Homo sapiens: one gene and its partners. The protein of the gene in region 3 purifies or fractionates together with the protein of the main gene of each other region. This does not show direct contact. Each region holds a gene or a part of one and is shown on either strand. Other genes may lie near its edges. The genes, in order: DNAJC17, POGLUT1, ATPAF1, SULF2 and MACROD1.

Region 1 (3,518 bases), on a different chromosome or scaffold from region 3:
ATAGGCAGAAGGCCCTCTCCTGCCACCCAGACAAAAATCCAGATAATCCCAGAGCAGGTGAGACTCTTCTCAGGGCGTGGGGAGAAAGAAACCCACTCACCCGGGCATTGTGTTTCCCGATGTAAGCTCTGCATGTGAGTGCTGTGGGGTGTAAGCACACATTGCCTGGCTCCAGGCAATGGGTCCCAGGGCTTCCCTCCTGTGAGGGGTGTCTGGTCAGTTGCTGATATGCTCACCCCTCCTTGTTGGTCTGTCATCTGCTGATGTCGGCTTGTCTGCCATCCTGTGACTTCTTTGAAGATTTTTTTTTTTTTTGAGGGAGCACACCATTACGAAGTCTTAACTTTATTTTTCTTCTGTCTTTTTGATCCTTATGTTTAGCTGAACTCTTCCACCAGCTTTCTCAGGCCTTGGAGGTGCTGACCGATGCTGCAGCCAGGGTAAGCACAGCCTCCTTCATCGGAATCGTCCCCCATGGTTAGAGACCACTGCTGCCTCTCAACCTCGGTCCTCTGCCCTTTGCCATGTGGCACAGTCCTTGCTGTCTAAGCCCAGGAGACCCAGTCACCAGGCTGCCACTCTGATGGCTCGTGGGCTAGGGGCCAGGCAGATTGCCGGGGCTCTGTCTTTACTCTCTCACTGACCCTCTGCCCTGTGCCCCTTTCTCCTGCCAGGCTGCATATGACAAGGTCAGGAAAGCCAAGAAGCAAGCAGCAGAGAGGACCCAGAAACTTGATGAGAAAAGGAAGAAAGTGAAGCTTGGTAGGTGCCATCATAGTGCTCGGTGGCCTGTGGTTTCCTGTGGTCATTTTCATTCATCTCCCTCACCTGAAGCTTCACTTCCAGCAACTCATCTCAAAGCCTTTTGGCTCAGGCTCTGGGCAAAACGCTGTTCTTAGAGGTTGGTTCCTAAAGACACTCTTAGGAATAATAACAATAATAAGGTTTAATATTAGCTAAGCATTGTGACAAATGCCTTATTGTCCCTTTAATTATCATAACTATACAAGGAAGTGTGGGTACTAAACCTTTTTTAAGAACATGGTTTTTTGAGACAGGGTCTCACCCTGTCACCTAGGCTGGAGCGCAGTGGCATGATCTCGGCTCACTGCAACCCCCACCCTCTGGGTTCAGGCGATTCTTGTGCCTCAGCCTCACGATAGTGGGACTACAGGCATGCACCACTACGCCCGGCTAATTTTGTTCCGTTTTTTTAGAGATGGAGTTTCACCATGTTGGCCAGGCTGGTCTTAAACTCCTGGCCTCAAGCTATCCACCTCAGTCTCCCAAAGTGCTGGTATTACAGCTGGTGAGCTGCCGCACCTGGCCTCTGAAGCCATTTTTTATAGGCAAAGGAGCTAAGGCACCAAAAGTTTAAGAGCTTGCTGGAGGTGGGATTTAAACTTATCCAGTGTGAGTAAAATTGGTGCTTGTGGCCGGGCGCGGTGGCTCACGCCTGTAATCCCAGCACTTTGGGAGGCCGAGGCGGGTGGATCACGACGTCAGGAGTTCGAGACCAGCCTGGCCAAGATGGTGAAACCCCTTCTCTACTAAAAATACAAAAATTAGCTGGGTGTGGTGGCGGGTGCCTGTAATCCCAACTACTCGAGAAGTTGAGGCAGAGAATTGCTTGAACCCGGGAGGCAGAGGTTGCAGTGAGCTGAGATCACGCTGCTGTGCTCTAGCCTGGGTGACAGAGCAAAACTCCATCTCAAAAAACAAAACAAAACAAAAAAATTGGTGCTTGTATTCACCATTTCTGGCTGAGTCTTCTTCTTCTTTTTTTTTTTTTTAAAGAAAGACGGGGTTTTGTACTGTCACCCAGGCTAGGGTGGCACCATCATGGCTCACTGCAGCCTCAAACTCCTGGGCTCAAGCAGTCCTTCTGCCTTGGCCTCCTGAGTAGCTGGGACTACAGGTGCGAGCCGCTGTGCCCGGCTGGGTCTTTTAATTTGTTCTAACCCCAATTCCTACCCAGACTTTTCACTTTGAGAAGCTCCCTCAGAAGGATTCAAAGAGGTCCAGGCTTTCTCTTCTCTAATAGCTTTATTGAGGTATTCTTTGTATATCACAACATCAACCCATTTCAAGTGTACACTTCAATGATTTTTCGTAAATTTACTAAATGATGCAACTCTGACTATAAATCAGATTTGGAACATTTTCATCAACCCAATAAGATTGCTGCAAGCATTTTTTTTTTCTCACTTAAAAAAAAGTCACTGGTTATAGCAGCATGGTCCAAGCACTCTTTTTTTTTTTTTCTTAAACGGAGTTTCGCTCTTGTTGCCCAGGCTGGAGTGCAGTGGCACGATCTCGGCTCACTTCAACCTCTGCCTCCTGGGTTCAAGCGATTCTCCTGCCTCAGCCTCCCGAGTAGCTGGGACTAAGTTGCGCACCACCACACCCGGCTAATTTTTGTATTTTTAGTAGAGACGGAGTTTTGCCACATTGGCCAGGCTGGTCTCGAACTCCTGACCTCAGGTGATCCACCCCTCTTGGCCTCCCAAAGTGCTGGGATTACAGGCGTGAGCCACCGCGCCTGGCCCAGTCCAAGCATTCTTTACTCAAGTTTCTCCTTTTCCTCTTGCTCTTCAACATCCATATATTTTAATATGTGCATATAGCATCCCAATATCTATTTCTATATTAAAAGAAAAGCAAGTGCCAGGAGACCCCATCTCAAAAAAAAAAAAAAAAAAAGAGAGAGAGAGAAAAGGAGAGTCTAAGTAAGTAAAGTGCACAAACTTCTCTGGACTAAGAGAAGGGTTTCTCACAGCAGCTGGCCTGGCACATGGTTGCAAGCAGGTTTCTCTTGGAAGGTAACGCCCTCACACAATCCAGGACCCGGGGTGATGCCCTAACACTCTGCCCATCCCTGTAGCCAGGTCCACAGTGAGGCTTGGTAAATGTGAGTTGAGGTGGGAGGTAAAGGAGACAGTGAGAACCTGAGCTCAGTGTGTGAAAAGAATCAAAGCCAAAGCAAGTCAAGCTGTGGTGCCAAACCACAGGAATCGAGCCCAGCAGCTCCGCCCATTGGCACCCCTGACACATGGCCCTGGGCTGCTGACATAAGCACCACCCACACCCTGTTCACTAGAGAGAACCAGCTTGGTCAGTGTGAGCTGTTTTTAACTCTTCCAGACCCCTGGCCACTCTGCTAGACCCCATACTTCTGTGCTGTGATTTTTCTCAATGGAAATTGACTCGGGGGCGTGGGCATGGAGGGAGGGGGCAGAGTTACTGTATGATCTCGTCGTGATTGAGACTTTGGGGAGGCAGCCAGAGCTGGGGTGGGCCGAGGCCACATGGAAACTGAACAGACCAGCAGTCTGGTCATTCAACCCTTGTGTCTAGACCTGGAGGCCCGGGAGCGGCAGGCCCAGGCCCAGGAGAGTGAGGAGGAAGAGGAGAGCCGGAGCACCAGGACACTAGAGCAAGAGGTGAGCACTCAGGCACACTGGCCAGAAGGCCACCTGCAGGAGGAGGAGGTGGGGGAGGATGGACCTGGTGGTCGC
Region 2 (3,518 bases), on a different chromosome or scaffold from region 3:
AAATATCTGTGGAGCAGATGAATAGAAAAGACCATGAAGGGAGCAGGGTTTTGTAGTTTTAGCAAGTGAGTCCTTGCCAGAGATTATACTCCCTCTTCACCCTCCTCTTCACTTCGGAGCTAGACTTTAGGAGGTAAATGGATTATCCAGCTACTATGTCCTGTTTCTTACCAACTTCTCTGATTCTTAAATCTTGAAGTCACAAATTAACTTGGGGACCATGTCTGGACTTCAAGAGTTTTAGGACTCCCTTGAAATTATGTGAGGATATGTGCATTTTTCTGGGAAGGAGAGAGGGTTGGTTCATAGTTCTTAACAGATTATCAAGGAATCCATGATGCCTCACATGTCAAGACCCTCTGCTACTTGGAACATCACTAGAAATTCTTCCACATACAGTCGTCAGGTTTTTAAGCCCTTTGGTTTTTGTGCATTTTTTTTAAATTAAATATTATACTGGGCTGTACAGAGCATACATAACAAAGGTCATGTAGCTGTTTTAGTGAGTCGTGACTACCTAGCCTCACAGTTATGAGCACCAGTGATTATAGAAGCCACATGAACTTTCCTAAAAGGGAAATCATTCCCTGGGATTTGACTATAGTGACCTGAACAACATACCCTTCAAGACCAAATGCAAGCAAAGAAGGGCCAAGTACCCCCCAACCCTAAAGGTACAGAGGGGACCAGCCCTGGATGACCTAGATGCTGCAGTACCCAGTATACCCCTCCTCCGCTGTCACGTCACCAGTGAATTGTCCACTTGTGCAGAGTCATTGCATTGGGTCCTAGTCCTGCTCACCTTTCAGGGATTGGGAACAGTTTTCTAATACAGGCCACACAGTTTTATGTCACGTGTTTCTTTTATAGGACAAGTCCAGAACGAGATCCTCTCATTCTTCTGTCTCGGAAAAACCCAAAACTTGTTGATGCAGAATACACCAAAAACCAGGCCTGGAAATCTATGAAAGTAATCACCAGTCATCTGACTAGAACTACAGCAGTGAACATTCTCACTCAAAGAACATTGCCACCTGGGTAGAATTTGAGATTAGGTTTCCTGTCAGTGGTGAGGTGAATGTAAAGAAAGTTCCATGAACCAGCATTAGCATATATGTAAATTCTCCTTTTTCAAACTTACATTGCTTTTCTGGCCATATTATGACTAGTATATTGCACTACTTTGAAGGTTTAAACCAGGGGTCACAAACTTTTTCCAGGAAGGGCCAAATAGTAAATGTTGTAGGTTTTGCAGGTCGTATGGTCTCTATTGCAGTTGCCAACAGACATGGGCAGTTTGTAAATGAATGAGCCTGGCAGTGTTTTTATTAAAACTTTATTACGGCCAGGCATGGTGGCTCATGCCTGTAATCCTAGCACTTTGGGAGGCGAGGCGGGTGGATCACTTGAGGTCAGGAGTTCAAGACCAGCCTGGCCAACATGGTGAAACCCCGTCTCTACTAAAAACACAAAAATTAGCCGGGCATGGTGGTATGTGCCGGTAGTCCCAGCTACTGGGGAGGCTGAGGCAGGAGAATCGCTTGAACCTGGGAGGCAGAGATTGCAGTGAGCCGAGATCACGCCATTGCACTCCAGCCTGGCGACAGAGCAAGACTCCGTCTCAAAAATAAGTAAATAAAAATAAAAATAATAAAAAATAAAAACTTTATGGGCACTGAAATTTGAATTTCATGTAATTTTAAGTTGTCATAAAATATTATTCTTTTGCCTTTTTTTTTAACCATTTGAAATGTAAAAATTTCTTAGTCCATGACAAAAACAAGCAGTGGGTCAAATTTGGCCTGTGGGTCGTAGTTTGCCAACCCCTGGTTTAAATCAATGGTCTCAACCCTGGCTGTGCAATACAACCAGAGAGCTTAAGAAAATGAATCAAATGAGTCAGAATCTCTGGGAATGGTGTCCAGGAATCTTCATTTGTTTAAAACTTTTCAAGTGATTCTAAGGTGAAGCCAGAAATGGGACCGTTGGTTTACAGTCCACTCTCTCCTCTTAACTCTATGGCTTTTTGCCTTAATCAAAGAAATTAAAGCCCTAAACTTCCTTTATATGAAATTTCCATATACCATATGAGGATGCTATGAGGAAAAGCTTTAGACTTCTTGGGAGAAAACTAAGTAAATCTGAGGTGCATGTATTATTTCATACAGTTTTAATCAGGAGCAAGTGAGCTTAAGAAACTTTGTTGAATAATAAAAATATGAAAAAATGTGTTCATTTAGAACAAAAGTTGTTAGCATCTACTGTGGGAGGCTGCAGAAGCAAACAAAACTTGTCCCCTCATCAAGGAGTTTACCATCTGCTAAGGTGGATGGAATGTACCTGGGGATGTCAAACTCAGATGTCCCCAGGGGCCAGCAGGTGATGTCAAGAGGTGAGCAAGAGAGAATACTAACAGTTCCAAATGTTAATAAGAGCCCAGTTTGCCAGATCTTCCTTTTTATTCTCCAAGAAAGACTGGAAATCTGGATTTTTGCAAGAAATATCCTACCACCTGTAAATGTTGGCAATGATTTGATTTAAAAAAAAAAATACTTTGCATGCCCAACAAAATTTGAGCATGGGCTATATACACCCCTAAGGCCATCAGCCAGCACTTGGGACCTTCTCTGCATACATTATTTACACAGAGTGAAGTGTGCTGCAGGCTGTGACATCTGAATTCAAAGGAGGGCAACATGGCTTTAGGTGTGCTTAAACTTTAAAATCAGACGGGCCCTGGTTAAAACTCTGTCTTCTATTTAGAGCCACACTGACCTTGAGCAAATCTCAACTTCCAAAGCCTTGGCTTCTGCATTTATATAATGGGAATAATAATGTCTCCTGAGTATATTGATTATGAAGCTTAAATGAGGTAATGTTGATGAAATGTTTAACAATGCTTGCTGCACAGTGATCACAATAAATGCTGTTGCTGTTAATACTAATAACTTCCTTTCCACTTAAAGGATACCTTAGGAAAGCCAGCTGCTAAGGATGTCCATCTTGTGGATCACTGCAAATACAAGTAAGATTTGCAGGACTCCTCACTTTCTTGGTTTCCATACTGCTTTTGAAATAGCTTCACTTTGGGTGAGAACTTTAATATAAAGGCCCAGCTGGAGTAAATGAAAGTTGCATTAATTCATTTCACTGGCTTTTCCTCAGGGCCTAAATGCACTGACCTGAGTTCTGTGGCGACTGTAGAGAAGAATGGAACATGGTTCCTGCTTCCAAACAGCTGCATGCTAGCTAGTAATCACAGTAATGGAATTACCTCTCCATATGCCCCACCCACCCAATCATTGAAGTTAGAATAAATATTTCTCAGTTAATAAATATTAGAATTATTATCCTGGTGTGCTGGCATGCTCCTGTAGTCTTAGCTACTCGGGAGGCTGAGGTAGGAGGATCCTTTGAGCCCAAGAGTTCAAGACCAGCCTGGGCTACATAGTGAGACCCTGTCTCTAAGAGAAATAAAATAAAATTCTGGGACTAAGAATTAGATGAACAGGTAAAAC
Region 3 (3,518 bases):
CTATGAAAACCTGTCTAGGCTTGGGGGCTCACTTTCTCTGAGCATGTGGGTTTTCTTATACTTGTTTTCTACTTTTGGAAATCTGTTTCATTGTCCTGACATGTTTGCCACAGGCTTAGAGATAGAGTTAAGCTGTTTTTTTTTTTTTTTAATTATGTGTTAATTGCTTTTTATTGTCTCTTTCAAGACTCTCAGTTCAATCTTTAACATTGAGATGGTAAAAGAAAAAACTGCAGAAGAAATAAAACAGGTAATGAATGGAAATGGGCTGGCCTACTCTATGAAAATGTGAATTCTGTGAACCAAATCTGAAAGTACATTTTCTGACACCTCTTTCTAGCCACAATGAAAGGTAATAATAAAAGGCAAAAGTGATGAATTACTTGAAGAACAATGTCATAAGAAAACTTGTCTTCTTTGTCACTCTTATATGTCTAATCAACTTGTATGTCTAGTTTCTTTTTCATTCCCATAATCCACATCTCGTGTAACCCTCATCAGTACTCTGTACCTGGATTACTGCACTACCTTTCCAAATAGGTTTCCCTTCTCCTTTTTTTTCCACTCCACCCATAATATTCTCATCAACTGAGTCCTCTGAAACTTCTCCTTTCATTATGGAGAAGTATAGTGTATTGGTTTAAAAACACAGACTCTAGAACCAAGCTGCCGGTTTTAAGTCCTAGCTCTGCCACTATCTATAGGACTTGGACAAGTTAATCAACTTGTCTGGGCTTTAGTTTCCCTATTTAAAGTGGAGCAAATAATAGCACTTACCTCATAGAGTTATTTGGATAATTAAATGAGTTAACATTTATTATCACTTAGAACAGTCCCTGGCATAGAGTAAGTGCTATATTTATGTTTTTTAAAAAATGGGAAAAAAATGTATTAGGAACCTGGTCACAAATGTTCAGTGACTTCCTGTATTCCTTTTCTGGGCATTCATAGCTCTCCATTATCACAGGACCTTCTTCAGGAAGCTTCCTGAACACTTTCCTTCAAAGCACTCATGAGCTATCCTGCCTGTTTGGTCATTTATATTTTTATACCTGTGATTCTTTTCTCTCTAATAAGCTATTTTTCTGGCATTCTTTATAGTTCCATGAATTATACATTAGGTAGATTGAGAGGATCAAAATAATAATAAAAGCAGCATACTCTGTATCAGGTACAATGCCTAATGCTTCATATGCATTATTTCATTAAATTCTCTTAACCACCCCGTGAAGTGGGTGCCATTATTCCCAGTTTACAGTTGAGGAAACTGTGACTTAAAGAGATTATGTAACTTAGTCAGTGGTAGAGCTGGGACTCAAACCCATGTCTATTTGACTCTGCATCATATTCCCACAACTGGAAGTTGTGCCAGTTGCCATGGGTTTCCTTTGTATGCTGTATCATTTATTTTAGCACACATTTAATGCATACCAATTAAATGTCAGACTCTGTGCCAGATACAGAGATAAATGAGAGAATCCTCATCCCCAAGGAGTTTTAGCCTCCGCAAAACGGATCAGATCAGCACAGGGTTCTTTCTATTAATAGAGGCATATGCAAAGTGTCAGGGAGAACTCTGGCTGTGCCTTTGGGAAGAAGTACCAAAGGAACATGGACACAAAACATGTCATTTAGGGGAAAAAGAAGCCAGGCCCAGGAGGCCTGATCATATGACAAGTATCATTGAGACCTATAGTTTTAGGTATAAATTTGTGTTTGTTGAAATGAGTAGCTAAATTCAACTATATAAGGAAACATATATCAGTCTCATGAATTTCAGTTTTGATTCATAAACTGTCTGCTAATATCATAAATTAAATAAAAATAATCAGAATATGCTGTCCTTAAAATGAGAAGACAATGTTTTGACATGCAAAAAAAGAAAAGGTAAAGCAACCTTATGCCACATTGAGAGTAGTTTCCATAGGTCCTAGGAGTTAATAGTCCTTTTGTGCTCTGTGTTGATTAGATGGATCACACTTTGATTAGTATCTTCAATTGGGGCCCCATATTTTAACAGAAATGTTGACAAAACAGACCAACTCTAAAGGAAGTTGACCCATTCTTCAACACTAGCTCACTCTGGTGTCACCTTGGTTATGATACCCTCCTCTACTTCTATGCCTTTGTTAGTGTTGTCATTCTCTGCTTCAAATGTGTCTCTTATCTCCTTCTCCTGCCCTACCTGTTATCTTCCCAGCCTCCTTATTTCCCTACTCTAACTCCTAATCATTCTTCAGGATACAGTTCCAAGTGTCCCTTCCTCTGGCACTCTTCCCTACCCTGGGTTAAGTGCCTCTTTTAGATTACATGTTTCTTATTATTTCACAATCATCTATCATTCAACCAGCATTTCTGAGTACTTTTTGGGTTGCAAGGCATTGGTGACAACACAGCAGATACCTGCCTACAGGGGGCTTGCAAACTAGTGAGGGAAATAGATCCATATGCAAATGATCTTATTATGAAGTAGCATATCCTAGGCATCTTAAGAGAGATATAAAATATGAAAGCAAGGGGGAGGAAATAAATAAAATAGAAAAGCAGCTCATAGGAAAACTTCTGACTGTAATATCAAGGGAAACTGCATGGAAGAAGAAGCATATAGGCTCAGCTTCAGAGTACAGGAAGAATTTGGGAGGTCAGAGGTAGGAGAGAGAGGCTTTCTAGTCAGAGCCAATAACATGTAAAAAGGCATGGGAAGGCAAAAAAAAGGTAGTAAAAAATAAGAACACAGAGCATCCATATGATATTAATGGTAAATAATGAAAAGACACAATATTGCATATATGCTACATCTATGTATACTATAAAAGACATGCTAGAAAGAAATAAAGTAACAGTGGTCTTTGTTAGGGTGGTAGGACTATGGGCATTTTTTCCTTTTCCCTGTTTTCTAATTTTCAAATTTTATTATATAATTTTTTTATTCCCCACCTTTTGGTATTTGCATCATGAAGGTCAACTGTAGCTTCCTTGTTCGTTAGTGTCAAGCAGAGGTAGGACTTCTGATTGGTATATACCATAGTCAGATCCAACAGACCTTATCTCTTCCACATGTAGAAGACTTTCTGGAAGCAGGATTTTAAGAGCTGCCTATAACATGCCAATAATATCTAATATGGTTTTGCTGTGTCCCCACCCAAATCTCATCTTGAATTGTAGTTCCCATAATCCCCACACATCATGGGAGGGACACAATGGGAGGTAATTGAATCATAGGGGCAGTTACCTCCATGCTGTTCCCATGATAATGAGTTCTCACGAGATCTGATGGTTTTATAGGGGGCTTTTCCCCCTTTTGCTCATTCTTCTTCCTGTCACCATGTGAAGAAGGATGTGTTTGCTTCCCCTTCCACCATGATTGTAAGATTCTTAACGCCTTCCCAGCCCTGTGGAACTGTGAGTCACTTAAACCTCTTTCCATTATAAATTACCCAGTCTCTGGATTAAGAAAATATGGCACATTTACACCATGGAATACTATGCAGCCATAAAAAAGCATGAGTTCATGTCCT
Region 4 (3,518 bases), on a different chromosome or scaffold from region 3:
GCTGAGTTTGTTGGGTTGGAGCGGGGAGCAGGCAGTGGGGAAGGAGAATTCCAGGCAGAGAGAGCTAAGTGGACAGGAGGCTGCTCGCCAGCGCACACAGCTCAGGGCTTCACGCAGAACTCAGAGCCCTGGCTTTTCTTGAAAAATCAGACCTGGGCTTCTGGGCCTGTGCTCCCCTCTGGCGACAGTCAGATGGGTATAGCCGGTCACAGTGCCCACTTTAGCCTCCCCAGGTCCCCCAGGCGCTTCTGGGCTGGCCTCATTCAGGGCCATGCCTGCTGGCCCATCAGTCTACTTCTGCACTAAGGAATCCAGGTTGCTGGAAGGGCCTGCATGCATTGAAGGGGATGGGAGGGTGGCAGGGCGCTGTGAATGCAATTAGATTCAGCCTCCAGGTGAGAACAGATGGGCGGGACAGGGGCAAGATGAGCAGGTGAAAGGCACCAGGGCCTTCAACGGCAGCGGGCGGGGGCAGACGGTGCAGCAGAGGGTTGGGGGGGATGGTGGCACCAGACTCCACACTTTTCCTTACAGCTCTTGCACCTCCCAGTTGTGTGACCCAGGACACATCTCTCTACCTCCGTGTGCCTCATCTTGAATCGGCACAGTAATGACAGCACCTGCCTCGTAGGGTAGCGTGAGGTGTAGTAAGCAAGTTAATATATTAACACACAGTGCTTGGCACATGCTAAGTGCTGGAGAGACACAGGGAACAGATCTGACCCATGGCCTGGAAAGGTCACTTTGGCACAGAATAGGCCCTAAAGAGTCACTGGGTCAATGGGCTGGAGCAGCTGTGGACAGAAGGGAAGAGAATCCAGTTTACAGGTGGTTGCAGAATCCCGTGAGGGGATCCAGGAGGCTGGAACTGGGGAAGAGCAGAAGGATCAACACGAGAGATTTGGACAGTGATTCTATCTACATTCAGCGTCTGACCACAGGCCTGGAGTTGAGTGCACACGTGGAGCCTCTGCACACACTGCACTGATTGAGTCTGGGAAGGTGGTCAGGGGAGACCTCCTTGCGCTGGAGCAGACGGGAAGGAAGAGAAGCCTCCAGCAGCAGGAAGGGCTGGAGAAAAGGCATTCTAGGCAGAAGGAACAGTGAGCGCCAAGTCCCTGGGGCAGCAGCCCACAGGGGATACTGGAGAGAGGGCTGAGGGAGAGGAGGACCGATGGGTAGGCCAGGGCCAGATTGCAGAGGATGTTCAAAGACTAGTATCAGGAGCTTGGGTCTTGTCTTAAAGACAGTGGGAGCCATTGAAGGGTTTTAAGTAGGAGAGTAATATGATCCAACTTGCCCTTTAAAAAGATTCCTCTAGCTGCCATGTGGGTGGATTTTAGGAGCAGACAGAAGCAGGTAACCGTGAGAGTGGTGGCTGTCGGAGGCATCTCGCTGGGGGATGATGGTAGCTCTGCCCAAGGTTCAAGCAGTGGCAGTGGAGAGAAGCGGCATTGGAGATAGCAGAGGTGGGGCTCGGTAACAGCTGGATGCAAGCAGGGAGAGGGATGTCTCCAGGGTGGATGGGGGTGGCAGGGGAGAGGCGGGTTTAGGGGAGCAGATGAGCAGCTGGCCGAGGCCCTGGCATGTCTTTCAGAAGTGGCAGTGTGTGGAGGACGCCACGGGGAAGCTGAAGCTGCATAAGTGCAAGGGCCCCATGCGGCTGGGCGGCAGCAGAGCCCTCTCCAACCTCGTGCCCAAGTACTACGGGCAGGGCAGCGAGGCCTGCACCTGTGACAGCGGGGACTACAAGCTCAGCCTGGCCGGACGCCGGAAAAAACTCTTCAAGAAGAGTAAGTGTCACAACCTGGCTGAGTGGGACAGGAGGAGAGAGACCATGCCTGGGGGGCCCCATTCATTCACTCCGACAGTTCCACAGAGACTGTCACTTTGCCAGGTGGTGATCTAGGGGCTGGGGACACAGCCACATCTCCTCACGAGCCACCCATTCTAGTGGGGAGCAGTAGTAATAAACAGATAAGGCCAGGCGCAATGGCTCACGCCTGTAATCCCAGTACTTTGGGAGTCCGAGGCAGGCAGATCACCTGAGGTCAGGAGCTCCAGACCAGCCTGGCCAACATGGTAAAACCCCGTCTAAAAATACAACAATTAGCCAGATGTGGTGGCTCACGCTTGTAATCCCAGCTACTTGGGAGGCTGAGGCATGAGAATCGCTTGAACCCAGGAGGCAGAGGCTGCAGTGACCCGAGATTGTGCCACTGCACTCCAGCCTGGGCAACAGAGCGAGATCCATCTCAAAAAAAAGGAAGAAACACACATACAAGGTTCTGTATTGATTGGCTGGTGAAAATGCTAGGACCAGAGGTTCACAGGAACCCAGCTCTGTGCTTCCCCTAGGAGCCATGTTTCAGCGTTCAATTAGTCAGTGTTTGTGGTGAGTTTATAGAACTACCCTGGGCTGGGCGCGGTGGCTCACACCTGTAATCCCAGCACTTTGAGAGGCCGAGGTGGACAGATCACTTGAGGTCAGGAGTTCAAGACCAGCCTGGCCAACATGGTGAAACCCCATCTCTACTAAAAATACAAAAAATTAGTTGGGCGTGTGGTGTGGCAGCAGAGTCGCTTGAACCCGGGAGCAGAGGTTGCAGATAGCTGAGATCACGCCATTGTGCTCCAGCCTGGGCGACAGAGTGAGACTCGGTCTCAAAAAAAATAAAAAATAAACTACCCTGAAGAACAAAAATAGACTATAGTTGAGTGGGGAAAAGCCTCACTCAGCTGAAGAAGTGTCTACACCTTCACACCTCATTCTCGGCAAGGGCCGAGGAGAGGACAGTCAGACAGAAGCCAGGGAGCAGGCGAAGTGGAGAGAGGGACTCTTCTAGACCCAGCCAGAAGGCTCAGCCGCCACCCTGGGCCATCGCTTCACCATTCTGAGGCTCAGCTCCCACCATCAAACAGGAAGAATGGTCCCTGCATGACTTTAAAACAAGAATGAGCCTGTGCCCTGAAAATGTGTGGAGGCGTCGGGGTCCGCCGGCTAGAAGTGTGCCCTCCAAGGCTGGGCAGCTTCCCACGTAGCCCATTTCTCTGGCCTAAGGACAGCCAAAGCCTAATGAGAGATTTTAGGTGTTGTTTTTAAAAAAAATTATGGTGAAATTCCCATAAAATTTATCATCTTAACCATTTTTAAGTATCCAGTAGTGTCAACTATATTCCCACTAGTACGCAACCTATCTGCTAAATGAACTCTTCATCTTGCAAAACTACAACTGTCCCCATTCAACGTTATCTCCCCATTCTCCCACCCCGCTCCCACCCCCACCCCGTTCTCCCACCCCGCTCTCCCACCCTGCTGTCACCCCATTCTCCCACCCGTTCTCAGCAACCACTCTTCTTCTCTATGAGCTTGACTGCTTTAGGGGCCTCATGTAAGTGGAATTGTACAGTATTTGTCCTTCTGTGGCTGGCTTATTTCTCTTCGCATAATGTTCTCCGGGTTCATCCACATGGTAGCCTGTGTTGGAATCTCCTTCCTGATCGGGCACAGTGGCTCA
Region 5 (3,518 bases), on a different chromosome or scaffold from region 3:
GGCTGAGGGACTGGCTCAGGCATCGCAGACCTGGGTTGTGATGAATTCAGCTCTGCCACTTTCCAGCAGCGTCCACATCTCTCTGGGTCCCCCGTTTCTCCCTGATTAGAACGGGGGTGAAGACGTCCCCTGCAGAACAGCTCCGAGCTTCCTCCCACACACTAAGGCCAAGCCGGTTGGCAGCACTCAGCCAGCGACATTATCCATCAGTCCCACCGCCAGTCAGTTCTGCCCTCACTGTCACTGCATGCAGGCAGCGGGACAGCTGTCCTCCTCCAGGAGCTGCAGGACCAAGTGGACCTGGCACCTGTCCCCAACATCCCCCCCGGCAGCGGCTGAGGGCTCCCAGCATGACCAATGGGGTTGGAATCGTTCTCGTTTTACAGATGAGGAAACCGGGGCTCAGGGAGGTTGGGAGGCCACCCTCACACAGCAGGGACTTGAGTGAGGAGCCAGGCACCCCCCACCCGCTCACAGACTCGGGGTCCACCCTGGCCGGCTCCCCTTGCCTGAGCACTGTCCCATGGGCTCCGCCTTCCCTTGGGGGTGGCACCAGGCACAGAAACCTGGAACCCGTCTCAGAAGGGCCCGCCCCGACCGCGCCAGGCCAGGCTAGCAGCTCACGGGCTCCCCCTGCTGGCCCGAGGCCGCCTGCACACCCAGGCGCTCAGCCCAGCCTGGCACCCTGGACCACAGGCTCCCGGGATGGGGCAGCCCCCACGGCAAACAGCAAAGGCTACAATTGAGAAACTCAAAAAGCATCAAAAAATATGTAGAGGCGGGAGAGCAATTAGAGGAGGTGGTGAGAAAGGAAGGACTGCAGCCTGGAAGCTTCTATGCACATGGCAGTGAGGGGGACAGGTAGGTCCCTCCACAAATGTTCAGGGAGGTTGGGAGGCCACCCTCACACAGCAGGGTGTTTTCCCGGCCAGAGTCACTTCATCATCCAGGCCTCCATCTCCTCATCTAACCACTGCTGGCAGGGGTGATAACAACCCAAGGATGCTGAGAGCATTAGATGACAGAACTCATGCAAGGGGCCCAGTCCAGAGTCCCTGCTGGATGCAAAGGTGGGGTCATCACAAAAGGCTAGGCCCACCCCTGGTCAGCCCCCACTGCTGCTCAAGCCAGAGCCACCTTTCCTGGCAGCCACTTCTGCCCCCTCTTCCATAAACATGTTTGGGCACGAGTAGGTCCTGCATTCAGTACCAGCGCTGCCACCTGCCAAGCCCACCTCCCAGAGGACTCACTGCTGCAGGTCCCCCTCCACCAGGCTGTCCTGCCTGCCCTCAAATAATCCCGTCCCCTCCCTCAACGCCCGCATTCCACGCCCCTGCAGCTGCCCCCTCCTCTGCTGTCTCCACTTCTTCCCTCCCATGCTCCCTTCAGTCCACCCAGTCTGGTCCCTCCTTCCAACAAGGTCAAGGTCACCACACCCCATGCAGCGGCCCCTCCTGCCTTCCCTGTGGACAGGAAGTGTCCTTGCTGCTTTCCTCCCTAGGTCTTCTAATCAGTTGCACAGATTCAAAACGCTCTTTAAGCAAGCAACCTCCGGGGCTGTCCCTCCACTCTCTTCTGAGCCTCTGACCCCCACAGTGCCTGCCTGCTCTCATTCCCCAAAGCCCAGGCATGCAAAACAGAACGTTTGACTCTTTCCCCCAAAACGTCATTTTTTTGTTGCTCCATTCTTCCCTCTTTTTTACTCGAGACCCTGCACCAGGGGTCCCTCCCTTTCCATCCTCTTTTGGATTGATCCCCGTGACACCCTAGAAACCAAGCCTTCCTCTCACCCTCCAGGACTGAGCCTTCCTCATGGCTCCCTAGATCCCACAGACGCTCCCAACTCCCAGCTGATCTCCGTGTGCATCTCATCCCCATCTGTTCCTTGACCGGCAGCCATGGATCCTGGGAACATAAATCAGGTGCCATCCCTCCTCTGTTCAAAACTGCATTCAAACGCCGGTCCTCTGGCCTCTCTCCCACCTCACTCCCAATGCTGCCTCCCCCACTACACCAGTTCCCCAAACAGCCAGGCTGCTTCCTGCCCCAGGCCCTTTGTACCTGCTGTGCTCTGCAGGATATGGGATAGTTTGCTTTTGTTTACACTTATTCTTTTATTTTTTTTTGAGACGGAGTCTCACTCTGTCGCCCAGGCTGGAGTGCAGTGGCACGATCTTGGCTCACTGCAACCTGCACTCCTGGATTCAAGCAATTCTCCTGCCTCAGCCTCCCTAGTAGCTGGGATTACACGCGTGTGCCAGCACACCCAACTAATTTTTGTATTTTAATAGAGATGGGGTTTCACCATGTTGGCCAGGCTGGACTTGAACTCCTGACCTCAAGCAATCCACCCATGTCAGCCTCCCGAAGTGCTGGAATTACAGGCGTGAGCCACGGCGCCGGCCCCCTTTCTTGATCTTGGCCATCTTGACCTGTAGGTTCCATAGGGGATCTGCTGTGTTTGCCATCAGATTCCCACCACCTGGCACGGTGTGTGGGCACCTGAGGGTGCCTGAGGGGCACGCTGAGGAATAAATGAGCCAAGACCAAAGGTTGAGGGCGAGTTTGCTAAGTACAGAGTCTTCTAGGCAGAGGGAACAGTATGTGCAAAAGCCCAGAGGTAAGAGGGAGCCAGAGATGATCCCCTAATTAAAAAAGAAAAAAAAGAGAGAGAGCATTTGGGTGGAGAAAGTGAGGCCAGTCGGTCTCTCCAGGTCTGCCTCCCTGTCTGAGGACGGACAGATGCTGGTGGCAGCCGGCCTAGACCCAGGCTGCGCCTTTTCTTCTGTTATAGGTCCCGCCAGGTTTGGGTTCGTGACCTCCCAACACCATGCTCAGTTTGAAGCCTTGGGTTTTCCCATCTCTGGAATAGGGACAAGGCAGGCCTTCCCTTGCTAACACCCAGGCTTGCTGGGAGGGTCAAAGGAGAAGGTGGCTGTGTGCTGCAAAGTGCGGTCTACACGCCAGACACACTCACTCCTTCCTGGCGGCTAAATAATGCCCAAAGAGAACAAAGCAAACAGGACAAAATTGTGGAGAACTTTTTTTTCCAACTTGGGGACACAGCAGCCGGAGGAACTTTTCTAATTATTTGGGTCCCCAGCACTTGGGGAGACCAAGGCAAGCCAATCACCTGAGCCCAGGAGTTCGAGACCAGCCTGGACAATATGGAGCAACCCCATCTCTACCAAAAAATACAAAAAATCAGCTGAGCGGCCGGGCATGGTGGCTCACACCTGTAATCCCAGCATTTTGGGAGGCCGAGACAGGTGGATCACCTGACATCAGGAGTTTGAGATCAGCCTGGCCAACATGGTGAAACCCCATCTCTACTAAAAATACAAAATTAGCCGGGTGTGGTGGTACATGCCTGTAATCCCAGCTACTCGGGAGGCTGAGGCAGGAGAATCGCTTGAACCTGGGAGGCGGAGGTTGCGGTGAGCTGAGATCACACCATTGCACTCCAGCCTGGGCAACAAGAGCAAAACTCCATCTCAAAAAAAAAAAAAAAAAAAAAA

Evidence for each region.
Region 1: the proteins of ATPAF1 (region 3) and DNAJC17 fractionate together in Homo sapiens (co-fractionation; one large-scale study listed by BioGRID). This does not show direct contact.
Region 2: the proteins of ATPAF1 (region 3) and POGLUT1 fractionate together in Homo sapiens (co-fractionation; one large-scale study listed by BioGRID). This does not show direct contact.
Region 4: the proteins of ATPAF1 (region 3) and SULF2 purify together in Homo sapiens (co-immunoprecipitation; one large-scale study listed by IntAct). This does not show direct contact.
Region 5: the proteins of ATPAF1 (region 3) and MACROD1 purify together in Homo sapiens (affinity purification with mass spectrometry; one large-scale study listed by BioGRID and IntAct). This does not show direct contact.

What each region holds. Positions count from the first base shown.
Region 1 is NC_000015.10:40,776,467-40,779,984, reverse strand, and holds part of DNAJC17 (dnaJ homolog subfamily C member 17), read left to right. Parts: coding exon 1-57; intron 58-381; coding exon 382-440; intron 441-674; coding exon 675-762; intron 763-3,357; coding exon 3,358-3,443; intron 3,444-3,518. UniProt on the Homo sapiens protein: May negatively affect PAX8-induced thyroglobulin/TG transcription.
Region 2 is NC_000003.12:119,485,963-119,489,480, forward strand, and holds part of POGLUT1 (protein O-glucosyltransferase 1 precursor), read left to right. Parts: intron 1-870; coding exon 871-970; intron 971-2,966; coding exon 2,967-3,025; intron 3,026-3,518. UniProt on the Homo sapiens protein: Dual specificity glycosyltransferase that catalyzes the transfer of glucose and xylose from UDP-glucose and UDP-xylose, respectively, to a serine residue found in the consensus sequence of C-X-S-X-P-C.
Region 3 is NC_000001.11:46,654,859-46,658,376, reverse strand, and holds part of ATPAF1 (ATP synthase mitochondrial F1 complex assembly factor 1), read left to right. Parts: intron 1-187; coding exon 188-250; intron 251-3,518. UniProt on the Homo sapiens protein: Has a complex stabilizing activity in the assembly of the mitochondrial F1-F0 complex.
Region 4 is NC_000020.11:47,670,473-47,673,990, reverse strand, and holds part of SULF2 (extracellular sulfatase Sulf-2 isoform a precursor), read left to right. Parts: intron 1-1,597; coding exon 1,598-1,793; intron 1,794-3,518. UniProt on the Homo sapiens protein: Exhibits arylsulfatase activity and highly specific endoglucosamine-6-sulfatase activity. It can remove sulfate from the C-6 position of glucosamine within specific subregions of intact heparin.
Region 5 is NC_000011.10:64,152,613-64,156,130, forward strand, and holds part of MACROD1 (ADP-ribose glycohydrolase MACROD1), read right to left. Parts: intron 1-3,518. UniProt on the Homo sapiens protein: Removes ADP-ribose from aspartate and glutamate residues in proteins bearing a single ADP-ribose moiety. Inactive towards proteins bearing poly-ADP-ribose.